Linked DNA regions of Homo sapiens: all the other regions are linked to region 1. The links come from fine-mapping of genetic effects on gene expression. A gene starts in region 1. Each other region holds a variant in brackets. All regions are shown on one strand. Distances are between the middles of the regions.

Region 1 (6,348 bases):
AATCCCAGCATTTTGGGAGGCTGAGGTGGGTGGATCACTTGAGGTCAGGAGTTCAAGACCAGCCTGGCCAACACAGTGAAACCCCTTGTCTACTAAAAATACAAAAATTAGCTGGGTGTGGTGGTGCATGCCTGTAGTCCCAGCTACTTGAGAGGCTGAGGCAGGAGAATCGCTTGAACCCAGGAGGTGGAGGCTGCAGTGAGCTGAGATCACACCACTACACTCCATCCTGGGCCGCAGAGAGAGACTCCATCTCAAAAACAAAACAAAACAAAACACCATTTAAAAAAACAAACAAACAAAAAACGGTGGAAGAGTGAAAAGATAAATTTGCTTTCTGCTTGAGCTGGGACATCTGTCTTCTCTTCCCCTCAGACTTCACTGCTCCTGGTTCTCAGGCCTTCAGACTTCGACCAAAACATCATTGACTCCCCTGGGTCTCAGGCCTTCAAGTTTGGACTAAAACAAATCCACTAGCTTTCCTGGGCCTTCAGCATGTAGATGGAAGATTGTCACTTAGTCTCCATAATTGTATAAGTCAGTGCCTCACAATAAATCTCTTTCTGTATTTCTATATATATCCTATTGGTTCTGTTCTCTGGAGAACCCTAACACACTGGGCATTTCATTAAGTGGAATATTATATAGTAATAAAAATGAAGTTACAAGCCTCATAGTTCGTGAATGTCGATTACACTCACAGGTTGAGTGAAAAAGCAGGTTGCAGAACAGTACGCAATGATGTTGATTTATATATGAAAAACAATGCTGTTTATTGTTTAGGGATACATGCATACGAAAAGCATGAAAATATGCATGGGAATTAACTACAAAGTTTAGGAAACTGCTTACTTCTCAGGGAGAGGAAGAAAAGGAATATGATTGGGGAGTGGTACAAAGGGAGCTTCAACTACATTCGTAATATTTCTTAAGCTGATTGCTGTTAACTCTTTTTCTAAGTCGAAATAGTTCATAAAAAGTGAAATTCTACATGTTTGAGGACTTTTATCCAGTCAATCATTACAGCACTCAGAGCCCCCACTGTATCTGAGCTGTTGTTGTAACAGGGCACCTTGAACCGTTCACCCAACAGGTAGGGCCTCTGCATATACTTGTTCAGGTTCTATGTTTACAAGAGTTCTTGGGTAAAGGGGTGGTAGAACCGAAGTCCAGCTTATCCATCAGTCAACAAGTCCTGTGTGCTCTGCACAAAGACACCAAGGCAAGTATCACTACGATAGGGTACTTTCTTCATGGCCCATAAGCTCCATGCCACATATGCAGAGGGGTTGCAGCCCAGTTCTATTTTTTATCTAGCCTGTGGATGCCGCAAATTTACTTACACACAACCAATGAAAACTTTAAGAGGAACCGATCTGTAGACAGAGACCCTATTATTTTTTGCTTGCCGTCAATTTTTATTTGGTTTATCTCAGTATCTTTCCAGTCCTTATGATTTATTTAAGAGCTGATCATTTTTCTCTAGTTATCTGAGATATTACCTTAATCACTGGTTTTTTGTTTTTTGTCTTTATACTTTCTTGGGACATCTTATCCAAGAGATGGAGACTAATTGACCAATGTATCTCTAATGCAAAGCATACAAAATGTACCAAATAAGAAATACAAACACTTCAATATATCTTATCTTTTCTGTTCCCTACCCAAGTCTTTTGTTCCTGATCTTTTATCTTCTTGGCTAAGCTGCAAATTTGAATCTTCCTTTCTTACATTTGTCATCTAATAGACAATAGGAATTTATTTTTTAGTAAAATCTGCATCTCCCCTTTTTTCAAAATATAAATCTCTCCTTTCACCTAAGTTTTCAGCCATAAGATTTTATTATTTGAAGACAAAGAATAAAGTTCTCCAAGTGTGGTTCATGAATCACCTGTGTCACTTTCACTTGCTGTGCAACAAAATGCTGGTTTCTGGGCCCCACTTAGGCCTACTAAATCATTCTGCATTTTTAATCAAGATTTGCATATAAGCCGGACTCCGTGGCTCATGACTGTAATCCCAGCACTTTGGGAGGCCAAGGCAGGTGGATCACTTGAGGTGAGGAGTTTGAGGCCAGCCTGGCCAACATGAGAAACCCCATCTCTACTAAAAAAAAAAAAAAAAAAAAAAAAAAAAAAGTAGCTAAACATGGTGGTGGGCACCTGTAATACCAGCTACTGGGGAGGCTGAGGCAGGAGAATCACTTGAACCCGGGAGGTGGAGGTTGCAGTGAGCCAAGATCACGCCACTGGACACAGTGAGTGAGAGTCCGTTTCAAAAAAAAAAAAAAAAAAGAAGAGATCTTAAAGAAACGATTACAGAAACTAACTTTACAATTTCTTCCTTATTTGTTCATGACAGTTGCTAGAAAATAATGGAAATGATTTAGACGATGAAAGCCTATTTAGGGAAGGCTCTAAGAGTACCAGATTAGGAGCCAGGAGCCCAGGAGCTGTTCCGTGATGATGTTGGGCAGAACACACTCTCTCTCGAGCCTCAGATTTCTTATCTATAAAACCAGAGTTTTCTGGGGGTCTTTAAGTTGTCTTTCAGCCCTGCAGTGAGAGGAGATATGTCATTCCTAAAACTTGAAATGAAGGCATATGTTTATTTATTAACTCTCTAGCTTCTAGACAGATTTACTGTATGTGACTTATGTGCCCAACCTGACATTATCTTTTAGATAAACTCCCAAATACAAAGATGATAAAATTTTTTCATTTTAAACTTATAGGTCTGCATCAACCTGTTTCCATTGTCCTAAGTTTTATTTACATACGATGGCTAGTCAACTTTATATGATAATTATCTTTAAATCCTGCTTTTTTTTTTTTTTTTTTTTTTTTTTTTTGAGACAGAGTTTTGCTCTTGTTGCCCAGGCTGGAATGCAATGGCGCGATCTCCAGCTCACCGCAACCTCCGCCTCCCGGGCTCAAGCAATTCGCCTGCCTCAGCCTCCCGAGTAGCTGGGATTACAGGCATCTGCCACCACACCCGGCTAATTTTGTATTTTTAGTAGAGACGGGGTTTCTTCATGTTGGTCAGGGTGGTCTAGAACTCCCAACCTCAGGTGATCCGCCCGCCGCAGCCTCCCAAAGTGTTGGGATTACAGGCGTGAGCCACCGCGCCCGGCCGAATCCTGCTTGTTTTAATGTATTCATTAAAAATGTCTCCATTATAGAGTAAAACGACTCAACGCCATGGCAGAGAGCAAGAAACGAAGTACCCTTAAAGCCGTAGTTGGTACAGGTAATGATTCCGTGGGGTCTATTAGGCCACAGGGACTCAAAATCCAGAAGAGGAGGGAATGCTGATAATTACCTAACACCAACGTTGCTGCTGGCTTCTCAGCCGTAGTCACCTCCCACTCAGATGTTTTGGAAATTGTCCAGTGTTCAGAAACATCACTTTCTCTGACCTTTTACAAAATTCCTGTGTTTCAGGATTTTAAAGTGCGTGAGAAAGGAGTCTAATTTGCAGTCACCAAAAACACCAAATACAGAGAGAGGACTGGGGAGAATGAATTGCTAAGACTTAGCTACCAAATGTGTATCAAGATAGGTGTAAAGATCCCAGGTGAAGTGAGGCACTGGAGAGGGTACACTTTTAACTTAGTGTATAGCTAAAACCCAAAGATGTGTGTCAGATCGAGGGAAACTTTTTTCCTCCTCTTCAAAATCTTTTTTCCGTTTGCAGAGCTCCAGACGTCCTCGCCCTTTGGAACAGCGGAGAGTCATTTAAAACTTAACTGAACGCTGGAGGGAAGTTCTACTTACCAGGTCATCCAATTTAGGAGATCCAATTTCTGCGGAGGGAACAAAAAGACGGGTGGGGGAGGGAAAAACTAGACCCCTTGTCCTACTATCCTTCTACCTTCAATCCACAACCTGCCAGACAAATCCAGCCAAGTCAAGATTTTGCCTTGAACCACCACCACCACCACCACCACCACCGCCGCCACCACCACCACCACCACCGCCGCCACCACCACAACCACCACCACCTTGTCACTCACGCCCGAGAAACACGCCCCTCTGGTCCTCCTCTTGGCCAATGGCGGCTCTCCTCTCTGCATAGTAATGAGCTCGAGACCTCCCCGGGCCAATGGCGCTCCGGGAGAAGGGATACTTTTGCATGTACCTAAGTGATTTGCATAAGCCAGCGGCCGGGGGTTTGGGAACCAGAGCGTGCAACCCTAGAAGGGAAAAGGACGGGAAGAGATTGAGCCGCGGCTGGGAGACAGCGAGCCAGAGTCTGGGTGTTTGTGCGAGAGCCACGGCGGGGGCTGGGGCGAGTGGCCGGCATGGCTGAAGGCTGCGCTCTGCAACCTTGAAGAGCCGCTGCATTGAGAGGCCAGGGACAGGGAGACCGGTGCGATGGCAGAGCGCGGCCCCCGCCGCTGCGCCGGGCCGGCCCGGCTGGCGTGAGCCGCCGGAGGAGCGGGGCTGCCTCTGCGCGTCCATGGAGCAGCGGGAAGGGCGAAACTCCGGAGCGCCGCGTCCCTGCGCCGCTGCGGCGGACTGCTGAAGGGGCCGAGCCCGCGCGGACCGCCGAGGAAGAGACCCCCGCTCCAGCCCGCAGGCCGGCTGCCCGGGGGCGGCGGGGGACATCGGAGGGCAGCGGAGCGAGCAGCGCCGCGGGAGAGGCCGGCGCGGGAGGCGGCCGCAGCAATGCCGGGCCCGCTAGGGCTGCTCTGCTTCCTCGCCCTGGGGCTGCTCGGCTCGGCCGGGCCCAGCGGCGCGGCGCCGCCTCTCTGCGCGGCGCCCTGCAGCTGCGACGGCGACCGTCGGGTGGACTGCTCCGGGAAGGGGCTGACGGCCGTGCCCGAGGGGCTCAGCGCCTTCACCCAAGCGCTGTGAGTGCGGGCGGCGGGGACGCGAGGGGGGGGGAGGAAACGGGGCCCAGCGGGGGGCGCCGCGGGGCGGAGCCAGGGGTCAGTCCCACCCCACCCCGCCCCGCCGCCGCCCGGGCCTGGGGAGGGGGTCCGCCGGTCACCTGCGTGCGGGCTGCCTGGCACCCACTCCTGTGCCACGGGCTTTCCGCACTTTGCTAGTCCGGGTTCGAGCCAGCAGTAGCTTTCGTTCCCAGACTTTTTGGGCACAAGCACCCTCCCACCCCACCGCGCACACCCCCAACTCACAAGTGCATCTGGGGCCAAGAAGGAGGAAGTAATCTAAAAACGCTTGCCCCTGGCAGCCTGTCCACGCGACCTTCCCTTCTCATGAGGGCCCTCGCTCAGCGGGCAGGAGTTCCGCTACTGGCGGGGCTGAGGGCGCCGAGAACTTGGCCTCAGTCTGCATACCGAGGCATGTCTCGTGGGGAAGCACCTGGAGCCTCCTGGGTTCCAGCATGTGGGGAGAAGAAACACCTGTACCTCAGTCAGGGCGAATCTCCTTCCAATTTGGCCCCATCCAGGTAGTGCGTCCCGGCACCTACCTCGGCCCAGTTCCACTCGGGACTACCCCACTAACGCCCAGGCTTCTGCAGCACGCAGGGGAGTCCGAGAAAACAAGGGAGAATTACAGGGTTCTGTTGGTGGACATGCTCTTACCCAACAAGGCCTTTTAAAGAAGGAATGCTGACCTGAGGTGCAGGATGTTGGAAGAGAAGCAAGTTCCGGAGCATATGCTCAGCCCAGGCTGCAAGGTAGCAGCAGGTTTCTAATGCACCTTCACGCAGCCAGCAGATCTTTTCTTTTGAGCTGCCTGAGATCGAGAGACACACTGAAATGTTTCAGACTTACAAAATCGCCCTGCCAAAACGGACTTGAGAGCTTTAGACGTTCCCTTGAGAAAAGAAGAGGAATCTGAACTAGGTTGTGGAGGTGGTGGCAAAGGCCACGGATAGAGGAGGAACAGGGTAGGGTTTTTGTGTTCTTATTGCTTCTTGCGTTGCGTGGCCAGCTGAATGCTTAAATCAGGAGCAGTCGAAGAAACGTGTGAGAGAGGAAGGGATCCTGAGGGGCCCTAGGGTAGAGGGAATTTCCTTTTACCTGTAGTGGAAGGGACCTCTTAGAAATAGACAGTTTTAAAGGACCCTGTGAAGAAATCTTTATGCAGGCAGGAGCATTGCTGTATTTCCAGGTGGGTGGTGGCAAAGGTGTTCCGCTTGCCCTCTCAGGATGGACTTTTAGTGAGCATCGAGGCCTGTTGTCTTGGAACCTGTTTCATTCTTCTACCTTCAGCCTTCCCCTCCCCATTTGTTATTTTTCCTGTCTCAGGTTAGTTTTAGTTATGTATTTGAGGTTTTTTTTTTTTTTCAGTATAGTGAAGTTTAACTTGTCATTAAAAAAAAAAGTTAACTTTGCAGTGAAGAGCATTTTGTTCATAAAGTTACATTAAGTGGGAA
Region 2 (8,227 bases), 170 kb before region 1:
AAGATTTTTCTATTTCTAGGATGGAGGGGAGGGTGTCCAAATGTATTACCCATCCATTAGGCAATACAGAAGCCTGAATTCTAACAAGCCTACCTTGGGAGCCAGGTATCTTGGTAGTTCAATCATCAGGTTGGCCAACCCTTTCCGGTATCTGAACCTCCATGCCCTCAACTGTCAGAGGAAGAGGGTGAACTTGGGGGATCTCCCAAGAGGATGGTCTTGGAGGTAAATTTCAGTTTTAATATTACAATTTCATTCTTCCTACTTCATTATTTGCCATAAAAAGAGATTAAAGAGGTTTCTGAAGCACTTAAAGGCTGGGAAGCATTCTGAGATAATTCACTGTGCATCTCCTGCCTCCCTCCATAGCTGGTGTCCTTATATCATGGTACTTGCCACAAGATTAAAAGCAGGAGGCACCTTGGGTTAGTGTGGCGGTTGGGGAGGATGTGACCAAAGGAAGGTTTCTACTTCATATGCAACTATAAAAATATTACCAACTGTCTGACAAGCAGGCAGAAAATACCTTGGGGAAGGTGCCCATATATTCCTCAAGATGCAAATTTTCTACCAGGGTCTAACCTTACTTTCAAAGCCAGGCAATGTATTTACCTTTGTTTTATGTCACTCATTCTTACTGTATTACATGGTGCCTGGCAAGGAGAGATTCCTTGTGTTTTGCCAAGTTGCAGGGTCAGGAAACTCTGCATGAAACTGCTGGATTAGCATCCTGTAGAGTCACTGTTAACAGAGCTCTTTGAATGAAATGGGTTTGCATCTCTGTTCTTTGGGGCTTTATAAATTCACCAAGGATGTACGGTTCCCAATCTGTTTCACCACCACCTCCCGAGTACTCTGGATAGTTCCTCCTCCTGAGAGGATGGCCTTGAGAACAAAAGTATCTCATAACAAATCACAGCAACACCACATTCAGCAGCAGATTTCCTCAGAGAAACAGCAGATATTTCAGAATGGTAAAGAGGTCATTCTGAGTGGAGCTTTGGCTAGCTTAGGAGACAAACCTCACTGGCATGCCAGTGTTTGAAACTCCTCATTTCAGCAATCCAACTTTGGTTTATTCCTGGCCCTGAGTCCTTTGTGCCTGAATCTCTGAGAAATCTATGTTTTTGTTCAATCCACCTCTGCTCCCACTTCATGCCCTGCTTTCCTTCCTGATGACCTCAGAGCTCTGCTTCCTCTGGGATCCAACATCTCACCACTCAGGGGGCACATAATATAGTAAAGAGTGGAGTCTGAATCCCAACTCTGCTACAAGAGCTGTGTGACTGTAGGCAAGTCACTTAACTTCTCTGTGCCTCAGTTCCTCACCTGCAAAGGACAGGTAAAAATATTCCCACTTACCTCATGGGATTTTGTGACAATTAAATGAGGTAATACATATAAAGCACTTAGGAAAGTTACAGACCCATGAGAAAGCCTCAGAAAATGTTTACAAACTCTTGGAAGTCACTCTGCTGACTGGTAATAAGCTGGGCTCATCTAGTACACACTTCAGAGACTCTTTTCTCATATTCAGACTCCTGGAAGAGATCCCATCTCATCTGTGCCATTAGCATCCAGGGTCACTTTGTCTTTTCTGGAAGACTCAGAGAGATAACTCTTGTTTACCCACTAGCAATAATACTGCTTGGCAGTTAAACTGTGGCCACTACATACACTCAAGCAAATGGAAGAGATATACTACAATAAAGGGTGTTTTTCTAGACTGTACATTCCAAATGAAGCCCATTATTCCTAAGTGTCTATCCCAGCTGAATGGCAATGACTGAAGCCAGGGTGAAATGGATGAACTCACATAGTCTGAAAGAAACAAGGGGCCACAGTCACATTTCTAAAAATAGACATGGCACATCAGGAAAATCCTACCTCAACTTCTGCCCCATGTCCTTGACATACATTTAACCCATTGCACAATTATAGTGACTAGTACTTACTATAAGCAGGCAGTGTTCAAGGCATCTTATGCAGATTTTCTCACTGCACAACAATCCATAAACTAGGTGGTAGTTTTAGTACTCCCATTTTAGAGATGAAAAAAACTAAGGCACAGAGAATTCAATTAAGTTGGCAAAGGCTGCAACACTTGTGAGTAGCAGGGCAGCCTGGATCTGGAGCCACTCTTAAACCACTGAAAAATTTAAAAGTGCAAAGGGCATTGAGAACATACAGAAGGAAAAAAAAAAAAAAGGCCGTGGTTGTGGGGAGGGGGGTGGAATAGCTAGTTACATGTCCAAGGGATTTGGCTTCCTTCAAAAAGGGAGACCACCAGTGGTGCTTAGAATTTTTAGCTTTCAGAAGAGTCCTGGATTGATCTTTTAAGGTTAACATGCAAACAGTCTTTCATTGCATGGAGGCCTTTCCAAAAGTGGATACAACCCTACTCTGTGCTGAAAAACCTGAATGTAGGGTTTCTAGAGCTTCATGTCAGCTATTTCCAATACTTGGATATGGGGCAGTTGTCACCCCTTTAACCTCATGGACAATCTGATGAGCTTCCTGTGAATTGCTGGGATTGGGCAGATAGGCAGAGTGTTGTGGAACCACTTGCAAGACCCAGGAGTGCCCAATCCTCCCTAGGTCAATACTTTACAGTTATTTTGTGTTTGGGATTGGTGGAGAAGAGAAAGGATAATGACTCAGGCCTGCTGGGTCTGCAATAGCCCTGGCCACCAGCGCCAGCCTTCTCTCCCCCATTCTTCCATGTATGGCTGACATCACTTGTAAGTCTTTGCTGCACCTCAGCCTCACAAGTCATGTCAAGGTCATGCTCCACTGCCAACTGAATTGAATTGAACCAAAAGATGAACTCAGTTTGCTATCTTGGCTTTCCCACTTTCTTAAGAACAGATCCCATTGGTGATGGGGTAGATCAGGTAGTAAAGTCAAGGTGCTGAGGACTGATGTGTCCCTTGAGTTCAGCAGAAGTTAGATGCGAAAGGGTGAAGAATGTTCTATAATGAGTATAAAGAGTTCTATCGATGGGTTTCAGACAGACGATCCATATGCAAAGAATCATATGTAAATCAAGTAAAGGGTAAGATTACCCTAGCAATTGGTTGAACACAAGGACAAGTGTTTGGCAATAGGCAATACTGTTACATCCCTATTTTGTACCAGATGCCATGCTAAATGCTTTCCATGCTATCTAAAATAATCATGAGATAGATGTAATTTGAGAGACAAGAAAACTGACAACACAGTAGCCTAAATAACTTGCCCAAGGTCATACAGTTAATAAATGATATAGTCAGATTTGAAGCCACATCTATATAATCCCAAGGTCTCGAATTTTAACCACCAGACTGGTGGCTCTCAATCCTGACCTGTACATTTGAATCACATAGGGAATTTAAAAAATATATCTATACCCAGACGAGGTAAATCAGAATCTCTGGGGGTGGGGCCCAGGCATCTGTATTTCTTTTTTTTTTTTTTTTTTTTTTGAGACGGAGTCTCGCTCTGTCGCCCAGGCCGGACTGCGGACTGCAGTGGCGCAATCTCGGCTCACTGCAAGCTCCGCTTCCCGGGTTCACGCCATTCTCCTGCCTCAGCCTCCCGAGTAGCTGGGACTACAGGCGCCCGCCACCGCGCCCGGCTAATTTTTTGTATTTTTAGTAGAGACGGTGTTTCACCTTGTTAGCCAGGATGGTCTCGATCTCCTGACCTCATGATCCACCCACCTCGGCCTCCCAAAGTGCTGGGATTACAGGCGTGAGCCACCGCGCCCGGCATCTGTATTTCTTAAAGATCTTTCCAGTGGTTTTGTTGACCAGCCAGGGTAGAACTGCTGCTCCAGATTCTTCTTCCTCTAGGTAAACAGGAGTCAGAGGTATCAGAGATTTCTGCCCATGGGACTCAGAGCCCTAACCTGGTCCCAAACTTGGGTGTGGGATTCTAATGACTGGGAATTAACAAGACAGGACGCTAGTTCTATAGGAAATTGAATACAAGTAGGACCCTAGCCATAGAAACAAGAATAATGATTTTAGATAGTAAAATCAACATTCAGAGTCAGAATGGACCCACCAGAAAGCTCAATCTAACACTGAGCTCCTGAACGAGGCTCCTTAAATTTCTTTAGATTCCCTGTGATTAGAAACAGGAGAGGCACTAATGGCTGCAGGAGGGCTGAGTCTACAGATGAGGATCTCTCATCTACAGATGAGGATCAACTGACCCAGTGGTGAG[G/A]AGAAGAGAGCTCTATGGGCTTCTCACAGGCAGGTCGTCACCTGTCCCGCCTCCAAGCAACCTGCTCTGAGCCAACAACATGTTTCCACACATTTCACACTGCTTGGCTCATTCTGCTGGACTCCAAAGGGCTTTACTAAGTTGAAGCAAAGAGAAAAAAAAACAATCCATGTTGACTGTTTGGAGTGTTTTCTCTGTTTTCAGAAGTGACTGTTAGATTAGTATTTGGTTTTATCTTCTGCATCTTCTAATATTTTTATCTCCTCCCCATCCCTACCTCAAACTGCCAAGCAGTGATTCCTGCTTGACAGTAGGAAAAAACATCTCCGAGTCTCGCAGCCCCTTCCTGGAGGGCTTGTTTTAGAAGCAGTGCAGGACATGCCCAGCTTAGCCAGGCCACGGGGCTAATCGAATTTGGCAGATGCTCTGCGTCAGCAGGCACCAGGGTGCTAATGCCCTGGGTCAGCTGGTGAGAGGGTAAGTGGGCAAATGCCTGGCTTCTTCCCCGTGTTTTCAGGACAGGAATCTGAGTCCCAGTAATCACTAGCCTATGGGACCAGAGGCTATTTTGGGCCTTCTTTTATCCAATGGAAAGTTAGGGGTGGTGACATCTGAAACTGCCAAGGAGCATCCAGTTTCACCCTTATCCAGGACATGTCCCTAGAGGAAATGGAAGCAATGTCAAGGAGACCAAAACGCGGGTGTCAGAACTTCCCTTTGTTTTTATTTCTGTGCCGTTTGTTTTCATCCATTCCTTTCACTTTCAGCTCACCTTTCCACTACTCTGGTTCAGGTCTTCATTGCATCTCGCCTGGGCTATCACAGCAGCCTTCCAACCCATCTCTCTACCCCCAATCTCTCTACCCCAACCCACTTCCAACATCCTCCCATGATAGCAGAATGATCTCTCTGAAGGTTCAATGACAATAATGAACATGAAAACACTTCGTAATACGTTACACAAATAGCAACACCTACCTATACACAAATGTACCGATGTGGCAGGAGAGACAGAAATGCTGTCTTTAATCACTGTTGACTATGCAGGTGTAAAGGCCAGTGCATTGCAAGGGAATGAAATCGATAGACTAAGAGGAATGTTTCTGGGAAATAATGGTCTAAGTTGGCACACACAGTATTGGAACCCTCAAACGAGTCAAAAAGGCATTCAAGGTGGACTTGCCTGCTTGGCAATTGTATGTCACTGTGATAAACCTGATGAGAGATGTAAGATGTAGATCTAATTATGCCTATTTTTCAGGTAACTGAGGCTGAGAGAGGCAGTAATTTGCAGAAGATCACTCAGTGAGCATATAGCAGAACTAGAATATAAATTCAGAGGACATATGCTTTTCAAGTGTGCCATATTGATACAGATACATTAATGTGGATGGATGGATGGATGGATGGATAGATGAATGGATGAATAGAGCATATGATTTCCCTCCCTTTAATATATCAAAGGGCTATCCATTGCTGACAGAGTAACAAATTGGTGATATTGGCATTATGGCCTTATAGGATGTAGCTTTATTTTCCTACTTTAATGTCCAGACAACTTCCAACACACTTGACAGTGCACTCCAACCCTACTTCTCCCTATTCCCTAAATGTACCTTACACTCTACCTCCTCTGCATCTTTGTCCATTCCCTGTCTCCCTCTCTGATTATAAAATCCCTACCCAACCATAACCCATAATAGGGCTGCCAGAAAAAACATCAAACCAAATGAATAATTGTTTAATATAAGTGTGTGCAAATACTCTATGGAACATATTTATAGTAAAAAATGATTTGTATTAATTTAAATTCAAATTTCACTGGGTGTCCTGCAATTTTAATTGTAAAATCTAGCAAACCCACACATCAGGCAGTTGCCCCATGTATACCCTCTGGTTTTCTTCTGCCATCTCAAGGTGGGATTTAGCACTTCTTCGAATTTTTCATACACAATTCACTCTCACTGAATAATGAGCAATGTGTATTTTATGGAAGACTTCTTAATAAATGTGAAAATGAAGTTTACATTCCATAATTGACATTTTATTTTTAACAGTTCTTATTAAAAATGGCCTTATGGCTGGGCATGGAGGCTCAGGCCTGTAATCTCAACACGTTGGCAGGCTGAAGCAAAATGATTGCTTGAGACCTGAAGTTTGAGAACAGCCTGGGCAACATAGCGAGACCCTGTCTCTACAAAAAAATTAAAAATATATATATATAGCTGGGTGTGGTGGCATGTGCCTGTAGTCCCAGTTACTCAGGAGGCTGAAGCGAGAGGGTCACTTGAGCCCACGAGTTTGAGGCTGCAGTGAGCTAAGATCATGCCATTACACTCCAGCCTGGGTGACAGATTGAGATCCCATCTCTAAAAGTCATTAAGTGTCCTTTTGACCATTTCCCTACACAGCATTTAGTGCTGATCACCTGCTCTCACTCTATTATGCAGAGAAGCTTTCACTTTTCAAACCTAGGCACTAGTCCACGGCTTGTTTGTATACCATGGTAGACTTATCAAAGCAAATTTTCGATTAGGCAGGTTTCTCTTAACAAATGAATTTTCTATGAATATAAAAAATGTTTCTATATGTTAAAGGTTCAATTGCATGAAGCCTTTAGCATTTTCTTGGGTAAAATAATTGCTCCCTTACTAAGCTGCAGTTATTTGTATAAACTCTTCTAGAGCAGTGGACATTTTCATTCACCTGTGTACCCACTGCAGTTCACCTAGCCATGTACCGGAAAGCAGTCAACAAGTGTCTATTAAATTGAATGAATGCAGTGTAAGGCCACATTATAAGTGTATTTAGCCCTAAGTGGCTACAACATTGTTTGCAGCAGCCAAGGAAGGGATCCCAGCAGTCAGGGAAAGCAACTTGATAGTTTAATTGAGTAATTCTCCACCCTAGTTGCACATTAGGCATCTGGGGAGTTTTAAAAAAATTATGAATTGTAGACCCCATCCTGCATCCCTGCATCAGGTAAATCAGAATCTCTGGGAGTGAAGCTCAGGCATCAATATTATTTTCAAAGCTCCCAGGTTATTTTACCAGGCAGGAAAGGTTAAAAATGATGAACAGTTGCTGGAGATTTGGACTAGTATTCTTCTCTGGGTCTAATCCATGACAGAAGAGAGAGACCAAGATAATCAGAGGGAGAAATACGGATTTCTTTTTGCTTTTCCCTGTTGTAGATGTTTTAGAGTTTACACTGTTCTTTCACATGCATGCACATCTTGCCACATCCCACCCCCACCACATAGTCTGGCCACTGAGCCTTGAGCTGTGTGTTCACTTTGTGAGTGTGAAGAACAACATGGCTACAGCCATTCTATGTAAATATGCAATCTTAGTTTTGGCTTGGTTGAGTATTGCTTCCCCAGGTTCCCAACTCCACTTTTACTGTTTTAGGTTCTGGTTTCACCAAGAATTCAGTAGCTGTGGTACTTCCCGGGTATGAGAGAATAAAGAACTTGTAAAGTGGAATTGGCCAGCTTTCCACACCCCTACCTTCACTGCACACCAACCTGCACTGACATCCAGAGGAGAACCAAGGGAATTGTTTCCTCCTGGTTTGGACACATTCCACTTGAAGCTCCTCCAGGCATTGTGAAGCAGAATTCCCTTCAGTATATGTGACTGCAAAGAGATGAATTTTTGAACTGGAGACTTTGAAAATAAGGATGAGCATGTACAGAGTGAAAACATGGGCCTCGAGTCAGCAGATTGAAATCCCTGACCTTGCTCTGTACGTCTCTAGCCACATAAGCTAAGCAGGTCTCCCCTCACTTCTTTCAGCTTTGGTCTTCTCCTCTGCAAAAGGAGTTTCTTCACCCATTTGTATTGTTTTAACAGAATTGCTGAGACTGGGTAATTTATAAAGAATGGAAATTTATTTCTGACTGTTCTGGAGGCTGGGAGGTCCAAGATCATGGCACCAGCAGGTTCAGCTGTCTGGTGAGGGCTGCTCTCTGTTTACAAGATGGCACCTTGATGCTGCATTTTTCAGATGGGAGGA
Region 3 (4,000 bases), 21 kb after region 1:
AAATTTCCTGTGCTTCTTCCTTGTCTTCCCAGTTTTCCATGGGCTCAGTACTTTGTTGAAATTGTAGGAGATAATTTGTGGAGGTGAATAAAAATGTTTAATGCAAATAATTTTGCTTTTTTTTTTTTTTTTGAGACAGAGTCTTGCTCTGTCTTCCAGGCTAGAGAGCAGGTGGCATGATCTCGGCTCACTGCAACCACCACCGCCCTGGTTCAAGCAATTCCCCTGCCTCAGCCCCTGATGTAGCTGGGATTACAGGTGCATGCCACCACATCTGGCTAAGTTTTAGTATTTTTAGTAGAGACAGGGTTTCACCATCTTGGCCAGACTGGTCTCGAACTCCTGACCTCAGGCAATCTATCTGCCTTGGCCTCCCAAAGTGCTGGGATTACAGGCATGAGCCACTGTGCCCGGCCAATAATTTTATTTATTCAAACTATTCTTTGAGAGCTACAAATATTTGTATAATGGTTCATGGAATTGTCAACCCAAAAGTATCTGTGACAGATCTCAATCAATTTAGAAAGTTTATTTTGCCAAGGCTAAGGACTTGCCTGTGACACAGCCACAGACAGTCTTGAAGACGTGGTTGGAGTACAGCTTACTTTTATACTTTTTAGGGAGACATAATATATCAATCAATACCTGTGAGATGACATGGGTTTGATCTGGAAAGGAGGGACAAGTTGAAGCCAGGGAGCTTCCAGGTTATAGGTAGATTTAAAAATTTTCGGATTGGCAATTGGCTGAAAGAGTTTAGTTTTTATCTAAAAGCCTGGAATAAATAGAAAGGAATGTCCGAGTTCCAATGATAAGGGATTGTGGAGACCAAAGTTTTATCATGCAGATGAAGCCTCCAGGTAGCAGGCTTCAAAGAGAATAGATTGTATTATAAATGTTTCTTATAAGTCTTCAGGTCTGTGTTGATGCTAATGCTGGTTGGCTCTTACTAAATTCCAAAAGGGTGTAGGATATAATGAGGCATGTCCAACTTCCCCTTCCCATCATGGTCTGAACTAGTTTTTCAGGTTAACTTTGGAATGCCTTTGGCCAAGAGGAGGGTTCCATTCAGAAGGCTGGGGCCCTTAGAATTTTATTTTTGGTTTACAGAATCAGTACTCTTTCAACTTTAAAATAATAATTACTTACTGAGATAATAAGTCAGAACTTTAAAAATTAATTTGTTCAACATTTGTTTATTAAGTGTCTGATGTGTTAGGGACTGTTTTTGGTGCTGGGGACACAGAATTGAACAGTATCTGATGCCATCCTTGCATTCCTATAACTTACCTGGCAGGGGGGTGGGGGATTAGTGGTAGACAGTAAATAAGCACAATGAATATAAAAGGTCAGGTAATGTTACATACCATCAAGGAAAATAAAGCAAGATGAAGGTGGTTTGCTGTTAAAGTAGGGTAGCCAGGGAAGGCTGGAATGAAATTTAGATATTAAGATAATTAGTCAATATCTATAGGAATATGAATCCATCTTAAGCAATGGCAAAACAAAATTTAAAAAGTTCCTCTTGGCCGGGCGTGGTGGCTCACGCCTGTAATCCCAGCACTTTGGGAGGCCGAGGTGGGCACATCATGAGGTTGGGAGTTCGAGACCAGCCTGGCCAACACAGTGAAACCCTGTCTTTACTAAAAGTACAAAAATTAGCTGGGCATGGTGGCAGGCGCCTGTAATCCCAGCTACTCGGGAGGCTGAGGCAGGAGATTTGCTTGAACCTGGGAGGTGGAGGTTGTGGTGAGCTGAGATCGCACCACTGCACTCCAGCCTGGGCGACAGAGCTAGACCCTGTCTCAAAAAAAAAGGTTTCTCCCTACCCCATAGTGACAACTTAATTAAACATAAAAGTCACTGTGCATGTAGGAACATTAAAAAAGAAAATAAAAGATAAAAGAAAAAACATAAAAAGGTTTGAAGTCAATGTGGCAGAATAAATTGGTATGTCAATACAACAGGCTATTACACAGAAGTATACAAACTATTGATACACATGACTATGGATAGTTTTCAACGGTATTAAGGCTGAGTGATTAAAACCAAGTTCAACAGTGAAACACCGTCTCTACTAAAAATACAAAAAAAAAAAAAAAATTAGCCGGACGTGGTGGCGGGCACCTGTAGT[C/A]CCAGCTACTCGGGAGGCTGAGGCAGGAGAATGGTGTGAACCCGGGAGGCGGAGCTTGCAGTGAGCCGAGATCGCGCCACTGCACTCCAGCCGGGGCGACAGAGACTCTGTCTCAAAAAAAAAAAAAAAAAAAAAACTCAAAAAGTTGTATACTGTATGATTCCAGGTTTACTATAAATGACAAAATTATAGTGTTGGCGAACAGACCAGTGGTTGCTAGGGTTGGAGATAGGAAAATGATGCGACAGAAAAGTGTCGCAGGAGGGCATTTCTTTGCAGTGGTGGAGCAGTTCCTTACCATGATTGTAGTGGTAGTTACATGAATCCATCTGAGTAGGGTCTGTAGCTTTAGTAAATAGTGTTGCATCAAAGTAAATTTCCCGGTTTAGCTGATATATTATGGTTATGTAAGATGTTGCCATTGGGAAAAGCTGGGTGAAGGGTATGCAGGAACTGTCTGCACTAGTTTTGCAACTTCTAGTGAGTCTTAAACCATTTTTTAAAATAACAACAACAAACATACCAGATCTGTTGAGAGTCCTGAGAAGTCTTAGCCATGGCCTTACCCCTTAAAGAAGATGAGGAAACTGAGTCTCTGAGGTAAGATGACAGCCTGAGGTTGCAGAGCCAGAGTCTCAATCTAGATCTTTTAACTTTCACATCAACATTATTTTGCTCCCTGAGAGCATAACCAGTTTTAATTTGCTATTGAGCAATTGTTGGAAGATTACGTGGGTGTCCATTTTTTCCCCCAGCTTCATGCCCACATTCCCCCCAGCTATGTATGTGTGTATGTGAATTCTCTTTTATGTTCTAAAGCAGAGAAAGTACAATATGCAAATTATGCATTAGGTTTATAATTTAAATGGTTTGAATCATATTTTTGAATGGAATGGACATGGCTCTCCTATTATGAAAGTATTTTATTACTGAGTGCTTGGTACAGTCTTAGTATGAGGAATGACCTTGGATCTCTGCCTGTGAATTAGTAGCTGAATGGTGTTTTACTTCTGATGATTCAGTATATTTGCCTTAATTACTGGATTAACCAATTTCTTGCCTCCCACTAAAAGCACACACATTTATCTAAACAGGGGATGAATGAATGAAGTTTTAGGGACTAATTTTTGTGGTATTTAAGCAACAATAGTCTAGATTACCCACAACCTTAATTTCCTTTCATGAGTCTTGTAGATGGGCTTTGTCACCATTTACACTTGATTACTTCATTGTTAACCCCAGTGATGTGATTTAGCATGCAAAGACTTAATTATTCCTTTCTGGCCTAGTGAGAAATTTCCTTCCAATAATTGCCTCCACTGCCCTTTAGCCTCCTTAAAACATTTAGTTTGTTTGAAACAACTTGGTTGCTCAGTAAGCAATTCCAAGCTCAGCAGTGCCTGGCGCTGTCTTTGGACCATAATTTATACCTTTGATATAGTGACTTAGGCCTCAGTTCTTAAGTGATGTCTGGTGGGTACTCTTCATTAAAATAGTGGTGTGAAGCATTTGTCTGAAGTTATGGTTCCAAACTAAATGGTTCTAAACAGTTCTCTGGTGGTCTCTTTAAATTTAACATTTCCTTATTTTAAGTGAAAAATTGTGCTAACTTTGGAAATAAAAGTTGACTCTTTAAACTTTAGTTTTAAGTATTGAAAAGTACCGTTCATTTAGTTGTGAATACTAAAAACTGTAGTGTTTTTAAGAAGTGTTTTTGTAAGGAGTCCTAGAAATAGTATAGATCCTTACATAACCTAGAAATAGTAATCCTGGAAGTAGTATATAGATCATTACATAACCTGCCACTGGACATTATTTTGTCCCAGGGTATCAGACTTGTTGGAGAAATTGAAAGGTTTATGAAGA
Region 4 (8,227 bases), 140 kb after region 1:
ACCAGCCTGGACAACATAGGGAGACCCCATCTCTACAAAACATTAAAAAATTAGCTTGGCATGGAGGCTTGTGCCTATAGTTTCAGCTACTCAAGAGGCTGAAGTGGGGGGATCGTTTGAGCTCAGGAAGTCAAAGCTGCAGTGAACTGTGATCATGCCACTGCACTCCAATCTGGGTGACGAGCGAGACCTTGTCTCAAAAAAAAAAAAAGTAGAACTTAAAGGGCTGCTTTGGAGCTGACGGGTGATGATAATATTAGCAGAGAAAGGGAATACAGAAAGGAATGACAGCTTTGGGGGTGAGAAACTGAGGGTTTTTTTTTTCCCCTTTCAAATTGTTTATCAAAGTAATATATGCACATAGTTTAAAATTCAAATAGTACTAAATGTTGTTTGATGGAAAACAGGAGCGTTTTGCTTACTTCTCACTGCCTCACAGTCTTGCTCCCAAGGGGATATTTTATTGTATTATTTATTTGATAATTTCCTCTCATAATATTCTCTGGTCCCTTTTTTCTAGAATCCTGTTAGGCAATTACTGGTCTTCCTGAATTAATTCTCTAATAATTTAAAAGGAAATATTTTTCTCCTGTCTTACTTTTTTCCCCCTACCCTGGTGAGGGAGACCACTTTCTGTGAGAAGTCCTTGATGTTATTTTCCAATTCTTGAATAATTTTTTTATGGCTACCTTATTTTAAATTCCAAACATTCTTTTCTGTTTATTCCTTTTTCATAGCCTCCTATACTTATTTTATGGATGCAATATCTTTTTTCATCTCTAAGGACATTAGTTGCAGTTTTTTTTCTTAATTGGCTCTGTTTCTTCCAGATGCCTTTTTTTCTTCATTTTCTCTTTTTCTGAGGTTTTATTAGAGGTTTTCCTCAAACGTTTTTTAATCCTTGTCTGACATTTATATTTGTTATATGAATTCCTGTCTGTTCCTATTTAAGAATAGGGCATTAAAAGGCTGAATAGAAGCTATGTGGGCATAGGTAGGGCTTGTTGATGGTGGATTTTTTATTGTTGTGGGTAGACTTCCAAATACCTGGAAGTCTTTCCCCCTTAGGCTGTTCATTTTCTCAGAGAAGGATCTTCTAATCTTCCGGAGAGATATAAGCCTAGCTGCCAGCATTCCGGAGTAGGACCTGGGAATGTAGTTCTGTATATCACAGTTCATTTCTTGGTAAACTGTCACTTCCTGTGTTTTCAGTCTAGCTAGTTAGTGTATAAGCTTCATTCTCCTTAGTAGCTAGTGTTCCCCTATGCTGAGCCCTTCCAGGATTCTGCAGGCTGAATTTTTGTTGTTGTTGTTGTATTTATTTCAGCATTTAGAAACCTTTAAACAGTAAAAGAGAAAAAGAAAAAAAAAAGGCACTCAGAGGAAACAGAGCCAATTAAGAAAGAAGAAAAAAAATTGCAACTATCATTAATGTCCTTAAAGATGAGGAAAAACACTACATCCATACTGTCCTAACTCCAGTACTCTCCTAAGTCAGTTGTTTCACCTCTATCCTCTCTGCACCATCCCAAAATTTGTAGGAATCTGTGGTTAACCATTGTATTCTCTTCTGTTTGCCCTTGTGGATTTGTACATTTTTTCTTAAAAGAAATTCCTTTGCCATCATCTTAGCAGAGATTGGAGTGGGAAAGGAGATAATTCTGTATGATTAATCTGCTATGTTTAATTGGACATCCTGAATTTAGTTATGAACATATTGACATAAGGGGGTGTTACAGATAAAGGTTTGTTGCCCAGATGAGAAGTGTAGTTTTGGGAATATTTAGACCTTATTAGTTTAACATAATCATTGAAACTATGGAGGTGAATAGCATTTCTCAAGAAGAGTCTGAAGCATGACATTCTTTTATTCCTTCATTCCACCCATATTAAGTGCCTGCCATATTTGGCCCAGAAAAGATAGACTAGGATGGAATGTAGAGGTTGAGTATAAAGGTAAGGCAGAAGGAAAGAAGCCACTGGAAGACCAGTGAAAATGGTGGGAGGTGCAAAAGAGGAAAGTGTGCCACAGTGAGAGAGGGGAGCTTTCAGGAAGGGGAAGTAGAAGGTCTTCTAGAATATCAAATGCTGTGCAAGCAGTCAGGTAGAATGAGCAAGGCATTCTAGTATGTATTGAATTCCTAGCACTATGCTAGAATCTGGGGATTCTAGTGGTAAACAAGACTGAACTAATCCTGAATCTGTTAGCATTTACATTCTAGCAGAGATTACAGTTAAAGCCATACTTACCTTAAAGCACAAGCTGTGAGGGCATATGAGGAGGTAGCTAACCTTTGTTGGAGTCAGGAAAAGCTTCTGGGACAAAGTGATTAAGCTGAGACTCAGGCTTGAGGCACCCGAATAAACAAAACTTAGAATTTAATAATTTTGGAGGCTGGAGAGTAAGGAATGGACTTAGAACACTGGTGGTTCCCTATGTAACCTTTCTTTCTTTCAGATTCCAAGGATAGGTGATATGACAGCTTTTGAACATCAAAGGGACTTTCAGATGCTTGTATATATTGACACATTACTACAAAGTTACAAAGGAAATTTCTAAAATCCTGGTCATTTGTAAAGAAAATATTTAACATTCTATGGGAAAATATACTTTGAGGTTTGATGACAAACATAGGCCATCTGTGGCCTCAGAGTAATAAAGATGGGGCTTCTTATTTTGAAAATAAATTGCTAATGATCTAATTAGCAATTCAAAGCTTATTCTTTCATGGACTTGCTTATTATGATACCTAAGGCCTAGGTGAATCAAGAATACAGTAGTTATGTTACACTAACAAATTACACTGTGATTTAAATGTAATACCTCAAACTATAACAATCCTAGAAGAAAACCTCAGAAACACCATTCTGGATATCAATGTTGAGAAAGAATTTATGACTAAGTCCTCAAAAACAATTGCAACAAAAACAAAAATTGACAGATGGGACCTAATTAAACTAAAGAGCTTCTGCACAGCAAATGAAACTATCAACAGAGTAAATAGACAACCTACAGAATGGGAGAGAATATTTGCAAATTGTGCATCCAACAAAGGTCTAATATCCAGAATCTGTAAGTAACTGAAACAATTGAATGAGCAAAAAAAAAAAAAAAAAAAAATTAAAAGGTGAGCAAAGGTTATGAACAGACACTTCTCAAAACAAGACGTACAAGTGGCCAAGAAACATGAAAAATGCTCATCATGACTAATCATCAGAGAAACGCAAATCAAAACCACAATGAGATACCATTCTCACACCAGTCAGAATGGTTATTATTAAAAAGTCAGAAAACAACAGGTGTTGGTGAGGCTGTGGAGCAAAGGGAATGCTTATACACGTTGGTGGGAATGTAAATTAGTTCAGCCATTGTGGAAAGTAGCTTGGAGATTTCTCAAAGAACTTAAGGCAAACTACCGTTTGAACCAGCAATCCCATTACTGGACATATACCCAAAAGAAAACAAATTGTTCTACCAAAAAGACACATGCATGTGTATATGTTCATCACAGCACTATTCACAATAGCAAAGACATGGAATCAACCTAGGTGCCCATCAGCAGTGGATTGGATAAAGAAGATGTGGTACATATACACCATGTAATACTACACAACCATAAAAATGAACAAAGTCATGTCCTATGCAGCAACATGGATGAAGCTGGAGGCCATTATCTTAAGTGAATTAATACAGGAACAGAAAACCAAATACTGCGTGTTCTCACTTATAAGTGGGAGCTAAACATTGAGTGCTCATGGACATAAAGATGGGAACAGTAGACACTGGGGATGACTAGAGGGGGAAGGGAGGGAGAGGGACAAGAGTTGAAAAATTAAATGTTGGTTACTATGCTCGGTACCTCGGTGGGCGGGTGGGGGTCATTCATACCCCAAACCTCAGCATCATGCAATATATCCAGGTAGCAAACCTGCCCATGTACCCTGGGTCTAAAATAAAAGCTGAAAAGGAAAAAAAGAGTGTTTTCTCAAGCTCTAAAAAAAAAAAAATAGTAATACACTTTATGACAAAAAACTAATTTTTCTTTCTCCAAAAAAAATATAGTAAATGATATTCATGTATTTGCCGTGGTCATTAATATCATAAATTAAATTCATATGTTGGCTTGAGGGAAAAAACACAGTTACTTTACAGTGAATATTTACCTACTACTATTGATAATGGCAGTCTGCCTAAGAGAGCAAATTTTTCAGAAAGGGCAATTGTATCTTGAATTACCTTTTAAAATTGAGAAGGGAAAATATTCAATTATCTGTCATTTGGGAGAAAGCTATGCCTTATGCGCAGAAGTCAGAGGGAACACTACCCTTTCCTTTGCTAGAAACAACAGAGCCACCTCTCCCTTTTCTCGTTCCTGGGCTCTTAGCTGATAGAATGCGCGTATGACCTTGGAAAAAGAAAGAGCCTCTCCCTTCCTCCTTGTTTCATGTCCCTGGGAACCACCTGAGGGGCAGCTGGAGATGGAAACTATCATTGTTTCTCTGGTGGTGGCAGCACAGGGTGGCGTGGGAGTGGAATGTGTTCTTAGTTGGAAAAATTTACCAAAACAACCATCCAGTACATACCAGTCTGCAACTCCCTCTCCCTGGGCCAAGAGTTTTCTTCCCTTTGTATAGGCTGAGATGCAAAGTGCTTACATAGGTAAATCTAAAAGGTAAGTCTTGAAAGATATCTCTCAATAAAATAGAGGAAATGCTCACCGGTTTATTGGTTCAATGAAGATGTTAGGCTGATGTCAAAGGCCCGTTTCTATCCTAAAAATTCTATTTTGTGTGGTTCATTTTTTGTGTTTTTAGTAT[G/T]TGAACATTGGTCACTGCTTATCTCTAGTAAAGGTGGTGAGGACAATGTCATTCCCATCTTGAAAGAGTGGGTGGTTCATAAACAACTGACTTCAGGAAGCCTTCCTCTGGGCCAAGCCCAGTTTCTGCTGAGAGGCACCCTGGCTCAAGAGAGCTGTAGGGACTCACCTGAGGTTAAAAACATGGTCTGAGCCAGGCACAGTGCCTCATGCCTGTAATCCCAGCACTTTGGGAGGCCGAGCCCGGTGGATCACCTGAGATCAGGAGTTCGAGACCAGCCTGACCAACATGATGAAACCCCATCTCTACTAAAAATACAAAAATTAGCTGGCAGTGGTGGCGGGCGCCTATAATCCCAGCTACTTGAGGGGCTGAGGCAGGAGAATCACTTGAACCCTGGAGCTGGAGGTTGCAGTGAGCCGAGATCGTGCCACTGCACTCCAGCCTAGGCAGCAAGAGTGAAACTCCGTCTCAAAAAACAAACAAAATACATGATCTACTACCTACGCTGTGGGAACTTAGACAAGTCTCTTAACCTCTCTAAGGCACAGTTTACTCTTCTAAAAAATGCGCTTAATAATACTTGCTTCATAAGGTGATTGCAAAGATTAACAAACCATGTAAAGTACCTCATACAATATTTGACACATAGAAGATGCTTAATAAATCATTTTGTGTACTTGTTAATAACAGCAGTAGCATATGCCTACTGACAAATTATGTGATGTTACACATTTTCCAATACGTGATGCTTTATGGGATTTAGAAGCTTTAATGCAATCAGTTTCTTTGTTGTGATTTTGCAGAAATCTTCCAAATGAATTCTGTAAGGGAACTCTAGACATATGTTGGTTTTCTCTGGCTAGATTGATTTGCCTAATTAAATTTGATGCTTTTTTTTTCTTTTTTTTAAATTATACTTTAAGTTCTAGGGTACAATGTGCAGGTTTGATACATAGGTATACATGTGCCATGTTGGTTTGCTGCACCCAGCAACTCGTCATTTACATTAGGTATTTCTCCTAATGCTATCCCTCTCCCAGCCCCCAACCCTACAACAGGCCCTGGTGTGTGATGTTCCCCACCCTGTGTCCAAGTGTTCTCATTGTTCAATTCCCACCTATGAGTGAGAACATGCAGTGTTTGGTTTTCTGTCCTTGTGATAGTTTGCTGAGAACGATGGTTTCCAGCTTCATCCATGTCCCTGCAAAGGACATGAACTCATCCTTTTTTATGGCTGCATAGTATTCCATGGTGTATATGTGCCACATTTTCTTAATCCAGTCTATCACTGATGGACATTTGGGTTGGTTCCAAGTCTTTGCTATTGTGAATAGTGTCGCAATAAACATACATGTGGATGTGTCTTTATAGTAGCATGATTTATAATCCTTTGGGTATAAACCCAGTAATGGGATGGCTGGGTCAAATGGTATTTCTAGTTCTAGATCCTTGAGGAATCACCACACTGTCTTCCAGAATGGTTGAACTAATTTATACTCCCACCAACAGTATAAAAGTGTTTCTATTTCTCTACATCCTCTCCAGCATCTGTTGTTTCCTGACTTTTTAATGATTGCCATTCTAACTGGCATGAGATGGTATCTCATTGTGGTTTTGATTTGCATTTCTCTGATGACCAGTGATGATGAGCGTTTTTTCATGTCTCCGTTGGCTGCATAAATGTCTTCTTTTGAGAATTGTCTGTTCATATCCTTTGCTCACTTTTTGATAGGATTGTTTGTTTTTTTCTTGTAAATTTGAGTTCTTTGTAGATTCTGGACATTAGCCCTTCTTCAGATGGGTAGATTGCAAAAATTTTCTCCCATTCTGTAGGTTGCCTGTTCACTCTGATGGTGGTTTCTTTTGCTGTGCAGAAGCACTTTAGTTTAATTAGATCCCATTTGTCTATTTTGGCTTTTGTTGCCGTTGCTTTTGGTGTTTTAGTCATGAAGTCCTTGCCCATGCCTATGGCCTGAATGGCATTGCCTAGGTTTTCTTCTAGGGTTTTTATTGTTTTAGGTCTTATGTTTAAGTCTTTAATCCATCTTGAGTTAATTTTTGTATAAGGTGTAAAGAAGGGGTCCAGTTTCAGCAGTTTCAGTTTTCTGCATATGGCTAACCAGTTTTCCCAGCACCATTTATTAAATAGGGAATCCTTTCCCCATTTCTTGTTTTTGTCAGGTTTGTCAAAGATCAGATGGTTGTAGATGTGTTATTTCTGAGGGCTCTGTTCTGTTCCATTGGTCTATATCTGTTTTGGTACCAGTACCATGCTGTTTTGGTTACTGTAGCTTAGTAATATAATTTGAAGTCAGGTAGTGTGATGCCTCCAGCTTTGTTCTTTTGGCTTAGGATTGTCTTGGCAATGCGGGCTCTTTTTTGGTTCTATGTGAACTTTAAAGTAGTTTTTTCCAATTCTGTGAAGAAAGTCATTTGTAGCTTGATGGAGATGGCATTGAATCTATAAATTACCTTGGGCAGTATGGCCTTTTTCACGATATTGATTCTTCCTATGCATGAGCATGGAATGTTCTTCCGTTTGTTTGTGTCCTCTTTTATTTCATTGAGCAGTGGTTTGTAGTTCTCCTTGAAAAGGCCCTTTACATCCCTTGTAAGTTTTATTCCTAGGTATTTTATTCTCTTTGAAGCAATTGTGAATGGGAGTTTACTCATGATTTGGCTCTCTGTTTGTCTGTTATTGGTGTATAAGAATGCTTGTGATTTTTGCACGTTGATTTTGTATCCTGAGACTTTGCTGAAGTTGCTTATCAGCCTGAGATTTTGGGCTGAGATGACAGGGTTTTCTAAATATACAATCATGTCATCTGCAAACAGGGACAATTTGACTTCCTCATTTCCTAATTGAATACCCTTTATTTCTTTCTCTTGACTGATTGCCCTGGCCAGAACTTCCAACACTATGTTGAATAGGAGTGGTGAGAGAGGGCGTCCTTGTCTTGTGCCAGTTTTCGAAGGGAATGCTTCCCGTTTTTGCCTGTTCAGTATATTGGCTGTGGGTTTGTCATAAATAGCTCTTATTATTTTGAGATACATTCCATCGATATCTAGTTTATTGAGAGTTTTTAGCATGAAGGGCTGTTGAATTTTGTCAAAGGCCTTTTCTGCATCTATTGAGATAATCATGTGATTTTTGTCATTGGTTCTGTTTATGTGATGGATTACGTTTATTGATTTGCAAATGTTGAGCAAGCCTTGCATCCCAGAGATGAAGCCAACTTGATCGTGGTGGATAAGGTTTTTGATGTGCTGCTGGATTCGGCTTGCCAGTATTTTACTGAGGATTTTTATATCGATGTTCATCAGGGACATTGGTCTAAAATTCTCTTTTTTTGTTGTGTCTTTGCCAGGCTTTGGTATCAGGATGATGCTAGCCTCATAAAATGAA

Which allele goes with the higher level. Positions count from the first base shown, and alleles are read on the strand shown. Sizes are in standard deviations (SD) of each study's normalised expression. Not every link is listed here.
With allele T in place of G in region 4, the expression in testis of the gene that starts at base 4,183 in region 1 is higher (small effect, 0.12 SD a copy in GTEx).

The links. PIP is the estimated chance that this variant, and not a neighbour inherited with it, causes the effect.
Region 2: its variant is fine-mapped to the expression of LGR4 in whole blood (INTERVAL, PIP above 0.99).
Region 3: its variant is fine-mapped to the expression of LGR4 in whole blood (TOPMed, PIP above 0.99).
Region 4: its variant is fine-mapped to the expression of LGR4 in testis (GTEx, PIP 0.95).

What each region holds. Positions count from the first base shown.
Region 1 is chr11:27,470,625-27,476,972 of GRCh38, reverse strand. It overlaps LGR4 (leucine rich repeat containing G protein-coupled receptor 4), which reads left to right and starts at 4,183. Exons shown (of 18, transcript NM_018490.5): 1 at 4,183-4,855. The coding sequence starts at 4,671. LGR4-AS1 (LGR4 antisense RNA 1) reads right to left here and starts at 5,242. Exons shown (of 4, transcript NR_131170.1): 1 at 5,141-5,242; 2 at 4,016-4,195; 3 at 3,777-3,805. RefSeq lists silencers at 4,410-4,459, 4,590-4,759, 5,010-5,069.
Region 2 is chr11:27,642,666-27,650,892 of GRCh38, reverse strand. The region is part of intron 3 of BDNF-AS (BDNF antisense RNA); the gene reads right to left. Among named protein-coding and RNA genes, the nearest start is that of LINC00678, 12 kb to the right of the region's middle. The variant G/A (reference allele first, on the strand shown) is at 4,210.
Region 3 is chr11:27,450,894-27,454,893 of GRCh38, reverse strand. All of the region lies in intron 1 of LGR4 (leucine rich repeat containing G protein-coupled receptor 4), which reads left to right. Among named protein-coding and RNA genes, the nearest start is that of LGR4-AS1, 19 kb to the left of the region's middle. The variant C/A (reference allele first, on the strand shown) is at 2,135.
Region 4 is chr11:27,325,087-27,333,313 of GRCh38, reverse strand. No RefSeq gene overlaps it. Among named protein-coding and RNA genes, the nearest start is that of CCDC34, 34 kb to the left of the region's middle. The variant G/T (reference allele first, on the strand shown) is at 4,819.